Homo sapiens: one gene and its partners. The protein of the gene in region 1 interacts with the protein of each later gene in a biochemical or structural test. Each region holds a gene or a part of one and is shown in the gene's direction. Other genes may lie near its edges. The genes, in order: CDC25C, FAM20C and FHL1.

The links.
Region 2: of the proteins of CDC25C (region 1) and FAM20C, one has a biochemical effect on the other in vitro, tested with the Homo sapiens proteins (one large-scale study listed by IntAct).
Region 3: the proteins of CDC25C (region 1) and FHL1 form a complex in vitro, tested with the Homo sapiens proteins (one study listed by BioGRID).

What each region holds. Positions count from the first base shown.
Region 1 is NC_000005.10:138,325,190-138,328,840, reverse strand, and holds part of CDC25C (M-phase inducer phosphatase 3), read left to right. Parts: intron 1-311; coding exon 312-357; intron 358-2,786; coding exon 2,787-2,820; intron 2,821-2,936; coding exon 2,937-3,026; intron 3,027-3,651. UniProt on the Homo sapiens protein: Functions as a dosage-dependent inducer in mitotic control. Tyrosine protein phosphatase required for progression of the cell cycle. When phosphorylated, highly effective in activating G2 cells into prophase.
Region 2 is NC_000007.14:198,943-202,593, forward strand, and holds part of FAM20C (extracellular serine/threonine protein kinase FAM20C precursor), read left to right. Parts: exon of another isoform or gene 1-1,741; intron 1,742-3,651. UniProt on the Homo sapiens protein: Golgi serine/threonine protein kinase that phosphorylates secretory pathway proteins within Ser-x-Glu/pSer motifs and plays a key role in biomineralization of bones and teeth.
Region 3 is NC_000023.11:136,199,970-136,203,620, forward strand, and holds part of FHL1 (four and a half LIM domains protein 1), read left to right. Parts: intron 1-3,651.

The sequences.
Region 1 (3,651 bases):
CCAGAATTCTAATTTCAGATTTTCTGAGTGATAACCTTTCTTTTCTACCCATAAGAAAAAAAAAAACTCCATAGGTAGCATAGTGTAGTGTTTCCCAACACTTGATTTCTTTTAGTGACACATATAAATTCTTACGTTTCTGTGAAATTGTACCTTGTACCATGAAATGGGTACCAATCGAGAGGCTTTGTATTCAAAAGCTCAGTCCTTGAAATTAATACGGCTTACTGGTAATGAAGAAAATCTGAAGGAAAAACAGGATGCATGGACAAGAATAACTCCTTTTACTGATTCTTTATATTTGATTGCAGGTCACCTGGATTCTTCAGGACTTCAGGAAGTGCATTTAGCTGGGATGTAAGTTCTGTTGTTAAATGAACCCCACACAAAAGCCTTTTAGCACTGGTCATAGAGATTTTATCCTGTGCAGACTCTGCAGAGTACAAAACCTTTCATACTGGGTATAAGTGGGCTTTGAGGCCTAGTTCCTTACCTTGAACAGTTTCTAAGTTTTCCACATCTAAATAGTGTTGTGAAAATGAAGGCTATTCATTTTAACCATCATAATCAGAAGTATCTATAAGGAAATGAAGGAAAATGGTATACTACACTTATGTATAGGCTTTTATTTGTATGTGAAAGGTGCTGTATCTTAGTAATTGAAAGTACAGAGTGGCCGGACACGGTGGCTTACATCTGTAATCCCAGCACTTTGGGAGGCCAAGGCAGGCGGATCAGTTGAGGTCAGCAGTTCAAGACCAGCCTGCCCAACATGGTGAAACCCCGTCTCTACTAAAAATACAAAAATTAGCTGGATGTGGTGGCACATGCCTGTAATCGCAGCTACTTCGGAGGTTGAGGTAGGAGAATTACTTGAGCCCAGGAGGCGGAGGTTGCAGTGAGCCAAGACTGCGCCACTGCCCTCCAGCCTGGGCGACAGAGCGAGACTCCGTCTCAGAAAAAAAAAAAAAAAGAAAGTACAGAGTATAAGCTCTGGAATCAGTGTGTGGATTCCTGGCTTACTACTTCATTCACCAGTTGTGACTCTGACAAGTTTTTTTTAACTTCATTGGACCTTAATTTTTTTTATTTGTAACGTGGAGACAATAATAGCATTTCTCATAAAGTAGCTATTGTAAGGAGTAAATAAACTGTGTATCTAGCACATACCAAGCATTTTACTTATGTATTTATTTTTATTTTTGAGATGGAGTCTGGCTCTGTTGCCAAGGATGGAGTGCAGTGGTGCCATCTTGACTTACTGCAACCTCTGCCTCCCTGGGTTCAAGCGATTCTCCTGCCTCAGCCTCCCGAGTAGCTGGGATTACAGGCGTCCACCACCACGCCCGGCTAATTTTTGTATTTTAGTAATACAAAAATGGAGGCTTCACCATGTTGGCCAGGCTGGTCTTGAACTCCTGACCTCAAGTGATCAGCGCCCCACCCCCACCCACCCCTTGGCCTCCCAAAGTCCTGGGATTACAGATGTGAGTCACTGGGCCCAGCTTGAATTGCTTTAAATGCTCTAACCCAGATAGATAATGAAATCCATGGAGGGAGGATAGAAATTAATTTTTTTTTTTTTTTGAGATGGAGTCTCGCTCTGTTGCCAGGATGGAGTGCAGTGGTGCGATTTTGGCTCACTACAACCTCCGCCTCCCGGGTTCAAGTGATTCTCCTGCCTCGGACTCCTGAGAGGCTGGGACTACAGGCACATGCCACGACGCCCAGCTAATTTTTGTATTTTTAGTAGAGACAGGGTTTCACCATGTTGGCCAGGACGGTCTCTATCTCTTGACCTCGTGATCCGCCCGCCTTGGCCTCCCAAAGTGCTGGAATTACAAGCGTGAGCCCCCGCGCCCAGCCTTTTTTTTTTTTTTTTTTTTTTGAGACGGAGTTTTGCTCTTGTTGCCTAGGCTTAAGTGCAATGGCGCGATCTCGGCTCACCACAACCTCTCCCTCCCGGGTTCAAGCGATTCTCCTGCCTCAGGCTCCCAAGTAGCTGGGATTACAGGCATGCGCCACCATGCCTGGCTAATTTTGTATTTTTAGTAGAGACGGGTTTCTCTGTGTTGGTCAGGCTGGTTGCGAACTCCCAACCTCAGGTGATCCGCCTGCCTCGAACTCCCAAAGTGCTGGGATTACAGGCGTGGGCCACAGCGCCCCGCCAGAAATTAAATTTTTTTAAAAAGTTAGCCCCGGCCGGGTGCGGTGGCTCACATCTGTAATCCCAGAAGTTTGGGAGGCTGAGGCGGGCGGATCACGAGGTCAGGAGATCAAGACCGTCCTGGCTAACACGGTGAAACCCCATCTCTACTAAAAATACAAAAAATTAGCTGAATGTGGTTGCAGGCGCCTGTAGTCCCAGCTACTCAGGAGGCTGAGGCAGGAGAATGGCGTGAAACCGGGAGGCAGAGCTTGCTGTGAGCCGAGGTCGTGCCACTCCAGCCTGAGTGACAGAGCCAGATTCCGTCTCAAAAAAAAAAAATTAGCCCCAATACACTGTGCTGGAAAATTAGTAAATTGTAAATTGTATAAAACTCGTTCATCTTTGGAACATGTTATATGGTTATGCAGGCAAAATGAGGGTCTTATCCCCAGGATGTCACTTGAGTCTTGATATTTACCACAGAGAATACCCTATGTATTGTTGTTGGAAGAGACATATCAACTAGGAATAGGGCTCCTAGAATGAAATAGAAAAATGTTGGGATGCACCAATCCACTGAAGAATAATCAAACAGTATTTGGGACTAACCTGACAGGCAGTTTGTTTTAATCTGCAGGAATCATGACCAGCACCTAATGAAATGTAGCCCAGTGAGTAGCCTCTCTTTTTTTGGGTTTTGTTTTGCTTTTCAGGTGGGAGGCAGAGGGTTTCCATTGCACCTGTGGCTTGAGGATGCTGGACGTTCTCAGCAAACTCTCTTTTTTAGGCACAGCTTCTTTGTAGCACTCCGAATGGTTTGGACCGTGGCCATAGAAAGAGAGATGCAATGTGTAGTTCATCTGCAAATAAAGAAAATGTGAGTGTTTAATGGAAACCTAGATATATTGGCAGTTTTATTTTTTGAGTGAAGAAACTTGGTATCATAATGAGACATAGAACTGTTTATACCTCGTATGCTAGACAAGGAAACTGTATTACTATAGGGGAGAAAATTTCTTTGTTTTTGTTTTTTCTTATTAAAGTTTGGCCCTAGGACAGACACCCAGCTCCAAATCTTCCACAGTAGGTCATCATTATTTCTCATGTTCAGTTGATCATTTTGAGGACAAAAATTACCCTTACTGTAGTGTAAGGGATTTAGGAGTTTTTTGTTTGTTTGTTTGTTTGTTTTAACAGGTAGGGATAACTTGCATAACTTGTTCATGGATTTTTTTTTACCACTTTACATGCAAGTGTAGATTAATTTCTTATTTCCCCCTTAGTCTAGCTTTTAAGCCCTTATTCCGAGGAGGCCATGGTACTTTTTATCTAAACCTTAGGCCATCCGTCGTTCCAAGTTAAATCTAGCCTCTCCGGAGCCACCTCATCACTAAGATAGTTCTGTATCTAATCCCTCATCTAAGCCCCTTTTCTAGACATCGTTTTTTCTTCCCTGCCTCCCATCCCTTTCCCCAAATCATTACCATAAAAGATAGCTGCTC
Region 2 (3,651 bases), on another chromosome or scaffold:
TCACAGGTGAGTTCTCATTTGTGAAGAGGTCTGTCTTCCTGAGGAAGCAGGGGACCCTCACCTGTGAACCAAGTGTGCCATGGGAGCTGCTCCATGTCCAGGTCCAGGTCTCCTGGTCTGCAGGGAACGGCACAAGAGGGCTGGCCTAGGCCAGGAGGATGTGATCTGTCCTAGAAGGGGGCTGACCTGCTTGCTGACCCCGCTTGCTGCTGCCTGGCTGGCCTGACTCAGCCACGGCTGTTCCGAGGGCCCTTCTGAGTACGAACTTCCAGTTGGAGGATCTGGGTGAAGACCCAGCTGCTTGAGATAGCAGCCTCTGGCTAGGCCCTTGGCGTGGCCAAGCCAATCAGGCAGGTTTAGAGCCTGGTGCCCCTAGACAGGTCCTGCAACCAAGAACAGGGGTAGCCTTCAAAGGCCAGCCCTGCCTTCCAACCACCGCTCCACAGCGAGGGAAACCAAGGCTCTTAGGGCAGGAGGCTTGTCCGAGATTAGCACCTGCGTGCTCCAGGCTCTGAGTTCTGTCCCCTCAGCTGTCCGGCCCCTGGGTGCTCACTTTAATCTCAAGTCATTCATCTTACTATTAAACGTGAGCCCAGAAATATTGTTGTAATGGAGAACGATGCCTGCGAGTCTCCAAAGCCTTCCCTCGGAACGGTTCCATTAAATCTCTCCTGCTCAGAACCACCCAATCCAATTCATGGAGCGCCACGTGGTCTACAGCACAGCTGGTTAGGGCCAGCGGAGGTTTATTTATAGCTGGGCTCCTGGCTGCCTGGTAACCGGCCATTGCCACCTTTAAAGAGTCTTGGGATATTATCTACCTCTATTCAGCTTGAAATCGGGCATGCAGTGCCTTGGGCTGGGGCTGGCGATAATTAAATTTCTATCATGCACAATTATGGATGCAAAGAATGAATGACATCCCACTGGCATGTGAGGATTCGGGCAGCTTCTGGACTGAAATACAGACTTCATAATTGCTCCATCCAGATTGGGACAAAGACTGTGGTTGGGAGAACATGCCTGAACAAAGAAAAATGACTCTGCAGGACCAAAGTTCTTGACACTGATTGATCTGCCAAAAGGGGAAGAATGAGTCCAGCTAGAATCCAGGACTAACCAGCGGGTGAGCTTCAAGGAACAAAGGGCTTCCGCTGGGTCAGCCCACGAGAGGGAGCTGCCTGCAGGTACCTGGGAGGGCACAGCCACCGTGTCTGTTCCTTGGGAGCAGGGCTCCTTGGAAGGCAGCGCCAGCTCCAGAAAGGCCACTGTTCCCCCTCCCACCCACCCCAGGTGGCAACTGCCCCTGCAGGTCACGGTCCCAGGGCCTCGCTCGGCCGGCCTAGAGAGAGAAAAGGGAAGATGCCCAATTAGCTGGACGCCCATGGCCCCAGGGCTGGGGGACCTTGGGTTATCCTGAAAGAAGGACAATGACCACCTGCAAAGGACGATTTCAAGTGGAGCCTGGAGGAGGCGGCAAATAGCTCAGTCCGCACTCAACTCCCTTCCCAGCCGTCTGGTGGAAGGTGAGGAGCAAAAGCTCATGCTGCTGAGGCCTGGGGCCACCCAGGCACCGGCCTCCCCGTGCTGAGCAGAGACAGCAGCCCCCTAGCTGCAGGAGTGTGCCCCGATGCGCACCTGCCGACTTTCCTTCTGATGCAGACATGGTCCCCACTGGGGCAAGGCTGCAGTTTTCTTTTAAAAAACAGATCTTTCAAAATAAAAGGGGCCTTGAAGAAAATCGTGGAATAAATAACAGTCTGGGGTGGAGGCGGTTCTGGCGAAAGTGTCCTGAGGGTGGTGTGTGATGGACGGGACTTTGGGCAGTGCTGATGGGGCCTTGCCTGTCACTTGAGGCCTCCAGGAGAGTCGAGGACTGGCAGATCCAGGTCCAGAGCAGGTGCAGGCTCCCAGCTCTTCCAGCCCCTTACCTCGCAGTAGGTTCCCACAGTTCTAGCCTCCTTGATGCCAGCCCCAGGGTGCCCACTGCTGGCCAACTATGTCCTTTTCCTCAAAACCAGGTCCCTCGGTGCCCAGGGTGAATGGGTATATGAGCCTGGGTGTGGGCACCCGGGGTCTGGGACACCGAGCAGACCTCTCTGGCTTGGAGATGTGTGCGGTGGGAAGAACAGGGTGACCTGAGCTCTCCCGGTGTCACATTCTCCACATCTGAGCCCTCTTTGGGTGAGGCCCTACTTCCAGCACACACAGCTGTCCCCATTCGTCTTCAGGAATAACTGACCCTTGAGGCCAGACAGTGGCTGTGAAGAGCAGGGGGACCGCCTGACCGTGACCCCCAAGGACAGACGCTGGCCCTCTTGACGGACGAGATGACCAGGGCCAAAGGCGGCAACATGGGGGCCCACGCTGACGGCAGCATCTCACACCTGGATGTGTTTCTGTGGTCCACAGGTCTGTAGGAGGTGGAACTGGTTAATTTAAAGTCAGGTTGGGGTTGTTGTTAGAAAGGGTTCCTGCTCCCACGAGAAACCAAGGATGAGTGGTGGCTGCACCCAGTCTCCATCCCCATGAGCACCCTGCGGGGTGTTGGGACCCCCAGGCCCGGGCCACACACCTCTCTCTTTCAGGGCCGTCTCTCCCTGTCTCTCCAGACCTGCTCTGGGTTCTTCCTTCTAGAGCTTCCCAGTGGGTTGCCGGAGCTGTCTGGGGTTATGTGGCTTGCCTAAGGCCACACCGATTGGGGCCTGGCACCAAAGTCCATTAGTATTTCTGTGACAGCAGCCATCTTTCTATGTAAGACGCTTATTTCATAAGAAATGCCAGCATCTCTTGGAGTCCTTCTGAGGAGGCAACTGCATACGAACATCGCCTCTGTCTCGTGCTGTGACCCGGGGAGAGACTGTGGGCAAAACCCAGTGGCGTCCGAGGGTCTGTGTGGCCCCGAACTCTTAGTGCTGACAGCAACATGAAATAATGAAGGCACAGGGCACTCTGTTCGTGCATGTTAACTTGTGTAACTAGTGCACGTTAATCACATTAACTAGCCATGTTAACTAGTGACGTAGATTAATAATGATGAATCAATAGGAATGAGTCCTGTATACTGACGGATATCCGGGCGATAGGATTCTTCAGCGAGGCCGGGGAAGAAGCAGACTGTCACCTTTGGTCTAAAGTTGGTGGGTTAAGTGGTGGGAGGTGCTCAGGGCAGGTGGCAGGAAGGGGAGAGCGTTCCAGATGGGGAGAACCTATTTGAAAGGCAGTGGACATCTTCCCATGTGCATAGAGAGGACGGGTGGCCACTGGGCGAGATTGCACTGGGGAATGGGGCTTGTGGACATCTTCCCGTGTGCATAGAGAGGACAGGTGGCTGCTGGGTGGGATTGTACTGGGGAATGGGGGGGCCCTATGGATATCTTCCAGTGTGCATAGAGAGAATGGGTGACTGCTGGGTGAGATTGCACTGGGGAATGGGGCCCGTGGACATCTTCCTGTGTGCATAGAGAGGACGGGTGACTGCTGGGTGGGATTGTACTGGGGAATGGGGGGGCGCTATGGATATCTTCCCATGTGCATAGAGAGAATGGGTGGCTGCTGGGTGAGATTGCACTGGGGAATGGGGCTTGTGGACATCTTCCCGTGTGCATAGAGAGGACGGGTAGCTGCTGGGTGGGATTGTACTGGGGAATG
Region 3 (3,651 bases), on another chromosome or scaffold:
AAACAAATGTTGTAATGTTATATTACTTGTATGTGTACATGATTAAATTGAAAGCCAAAACTTTTAATTAAGATACTGAGGTTTATTTAGGCACCTCTCAGCATGTTGGATGTAGTTCAAGAATTTTCTGAAAAAGGAAGCTTGTTTATTAAGTGAAAATGATGTGTCTTTTGAAGCAGGCATAGAAAGTCAGGCTACCCTTTTGGAATAAATGTCTAAAATTTTATCACCCAGCCACATTTCTAACTGTATTCTAAGCTTGTAAAACTTTAATTTAGTTAATTTTTAATTAAATTATTTAATAATGATGCTTTCTGTCTTAGAAAATCAGGGGACATTTATGTGGACCTAAGGTGTAGGTTAGACTTCAGCACCTTACACGTCATATAAGATGATTTTTAAAATCAGGAAATAGTATGTCATATTGCATTAGGTTCATAAGTCCATGAAAGCAGAGGAGAATAGGCCCAAGAAAGAAGTCCTTACAGAAAGGAAATCAGTGTGGTCCTGAAATAGGGTTGGTATGGACAAAATAGAGGCTCAGATAATTGGATCAGAAGCCACTTTCAGTGACTATCCACATACCAAAGTTTTAGAAACTTAGTTGTGGTAACATATCTCCATCTGTCAATCAACAGGCATATACTGAGTGATTCCTGTATACAAAGCCCTGGATTAGGTACTGGGGCCCCCTAGTGTATGAGCAGAACTTTCTGTCATAGAGAAACCCCACTTGTTAGCACTAGGGAATGTATCCAAGTCACTCGGCACCAAAGTATGTTAGCAGCGGGGAATCTGTGGGTCTGTAGCAACCTCATTTCTTGCCTCCTCAAGGAAGAACAAGGCAGAGGGAGAAGCCAAGGCAACTTTTAGAGCAGGAGTGAAAGTTTATTAAAAACTTTTAGAGCAGGAGGCCGGGCACGGTGGCTCATGCCTGTAATGCCAGCACTTTGGGAGGCTGAGGCGGGTGGATTACTTGAGGTCAGGAGTTGGAGACCAGCCTGGTCAACATGCTGAAACTCTGTCTCTACTAAAAATACAAAAATTAGCCAGGCTTGGTGGTGCACGCATGTAATCCCAGCTACTTGGGAGGCTGAGGCAGGAGAATTGCTTGAACCTGGGAGGCGGAAGTTACAGTGAACAGAGATTGCACCATTGCACTGCAGCCTGGGTGACAAAGTGAGACTCCGTCTCAAAAAATAAAATAAAGTTTCAGAGCAGGAATGAAAGTAAAGTACATTTAGAAGATGACCAAGCAGGCTACTTGAGAGATTCAAAAAGTGCATGGTTTGACCTTTGACCTGGGCTTTTATATGTTGGCATGATTCGGGTGTTATATTACTTCTCTCCTGATTCTTCCCTTGGGGTGGGCTGTCCGCATGCCCAGTGGCCTGCCAGCACTTGGGAAGTGCCGCATGCGTGGTGTTTACTGAAGTTGTGTGCATGCTTACTTTAAGCGATTTTTCCCTTAGCAGTAGAGCATTCCCAGAGGTAGGTCTTATACCAGTTAAACACCGCAATTTTGCCTCTTAGTGCACATGCTTGAGCCCAATTACCCACCTCCTGAGATCTCATGGGGACGTGGCTGAGCATCAGTTTCAGGTGTTTCTGTCTATTAGGGACCGTGTTTCCTTGGTGCCAGCTGCAACCAATTATTATTTTAGCGAGAGATAGTTTAACAACCATCTGACCTTCACCTGATGGCCGCCTGACATTCCTGGTTGGGTGGGGGGCCCTCTCTTGCCCTGCTCATGTCTAATACCTACTCTGGCATCCCTACTATGTACAGATGAGGGCTACACCGAGACATTAAAATTAGTCAAAGAGCTGCCCGAGGGCAAACATGCCCTCCACAAAGACAAGTGGTAAGGGAAGAAGCATGGTGATGATGTGTAGCAATTGTTTCCTTCAATGATGGCTGACACTCCCATTCCCGGATAACAGCAATAGGTCAAGGCAGACATATCTAGAAGTTCTGGAAGATTAAAGGCCTTCACATTTCATGTACTTAGAAATAGCTAAGGGGATAAAAAATTATTCCCTAAGAAATAAATGCCTAAGTACATGTAATTCTGTAAGGTTGAAGAGAGCCCAAAAGAAGAGGTAAAATGCTGGCTGGGCATGGTGGCTCATGCCTGCAATCCCATCAAGTTGGGAGGCCGAGGTGGGCAGATCACTTGAGGTCAGGAGTTCAAGACCAGCCTGCCCGACATGGCGAAACCCCGTCTCTACTAAAAATACAAAAATTAGCCAGGCGTGGTGGCATTCACCTATAGTCCTAGCTACTCAGGAGGCTAAGGTAGGAGAATTGCTTGAACCCAGGAGGTGGAGGTTGCAGTGAGCCAGGATAGCACCACTGCACTTCAGCCTGGGTGACAGAGCGAGACCCTGTCTCAACAACAACAAAGAGGTAAAATGCTATCTTCATTTTTCCCTATTCTCTCATTTCAAACAAAAGAAAGTGCAAGCTGGGATGGACGCGGTGGCTCATGCCTGTAACCCCTGTAATCTCAGGTGCGGTGGCTCACGCCTGTAAAATGCACTTTGGGAGGCCAAGGCAGGTGGATCATGAGGTCAGGAGATCGAGACCATCCTGGCCAACATGGTGAAACCCTGTCTCTACTAAAAATACAAAAATTAGCTGGGTGTGGTGTCACATGCCTGTAGTTCCAGCTACTCGGGAGGCTGAGGCAGGAGAATCACTTGAACCCAGGAGGCAGAGGTTACAGTGATCCAAGATTGCGCCACTGCACTCCAGCCTGGTGACAGAGCGAGACTCCGTCTAAAATAAAAAAGAAAGAAAGAAAGAGCAAGCTTTTCTCTCCTCATGAAGTCAAAGCTTGATAGTAGCTCAGACTCAGGGAGCCCACACTCAGGATCTTTGCATGTGTGTCTCAGCATTGTCATTTATAAGCTGGCTTTTTAGAGTTGTTTTGGTCTTGTGCACATCAGCACATCATTCATATTTTATACAAAATTGTGACGTGATCAGTATCTCCTCCAACTTCATCCTGAGCACACTGCGTGCATGAGGGTTTGAAATTGTTTTGTAACAAATAATCATAAATTTAGAAGTACGTGACGTAAGCTAATTCAGGTTGCCCAGAGTTCCACTTAATTTGATTTATTGCAAAACAAATACGAAAGTTCATGAATTTGACATAGACATTGTTAACATACTTTAAGTATTTCTAGCCTGTTTACTTATTATGCAACAAATCCAACATTCCTAGAAGTGCCTATTTTATCTAGACTAATTGTTTCCACACACATTAAAAGGACTCAAGTGAATTGTAGAAATGTATTCTAAAAGAATATGCCCTTTGAAATGATTCTCCATCTGGATACAGACTGCAGGTTTAAGTATAGAGTGGTGGGGAATCTAAGGTGTAAGGTGACCCTAGAGTTTTCAAACTCAGAGTGAAAAAATCTTGCCTAAAGCTAGGATTCAAAAATACCAAGAGATGAAACTCTTCTTATGGGTACTATTAACTTGGGGTTGATTCATTTAATTTTCCTTTTGCTTGGTTTAAGACCATGTACTATAGGAATGATACAGTGGCCAGTGACTTCATTGTCTGACATTTTCAACACCCTTTGTTACTTCTATCTTCACTGGTGAGCTGTGGATTATTTTATCATCTGGATGCT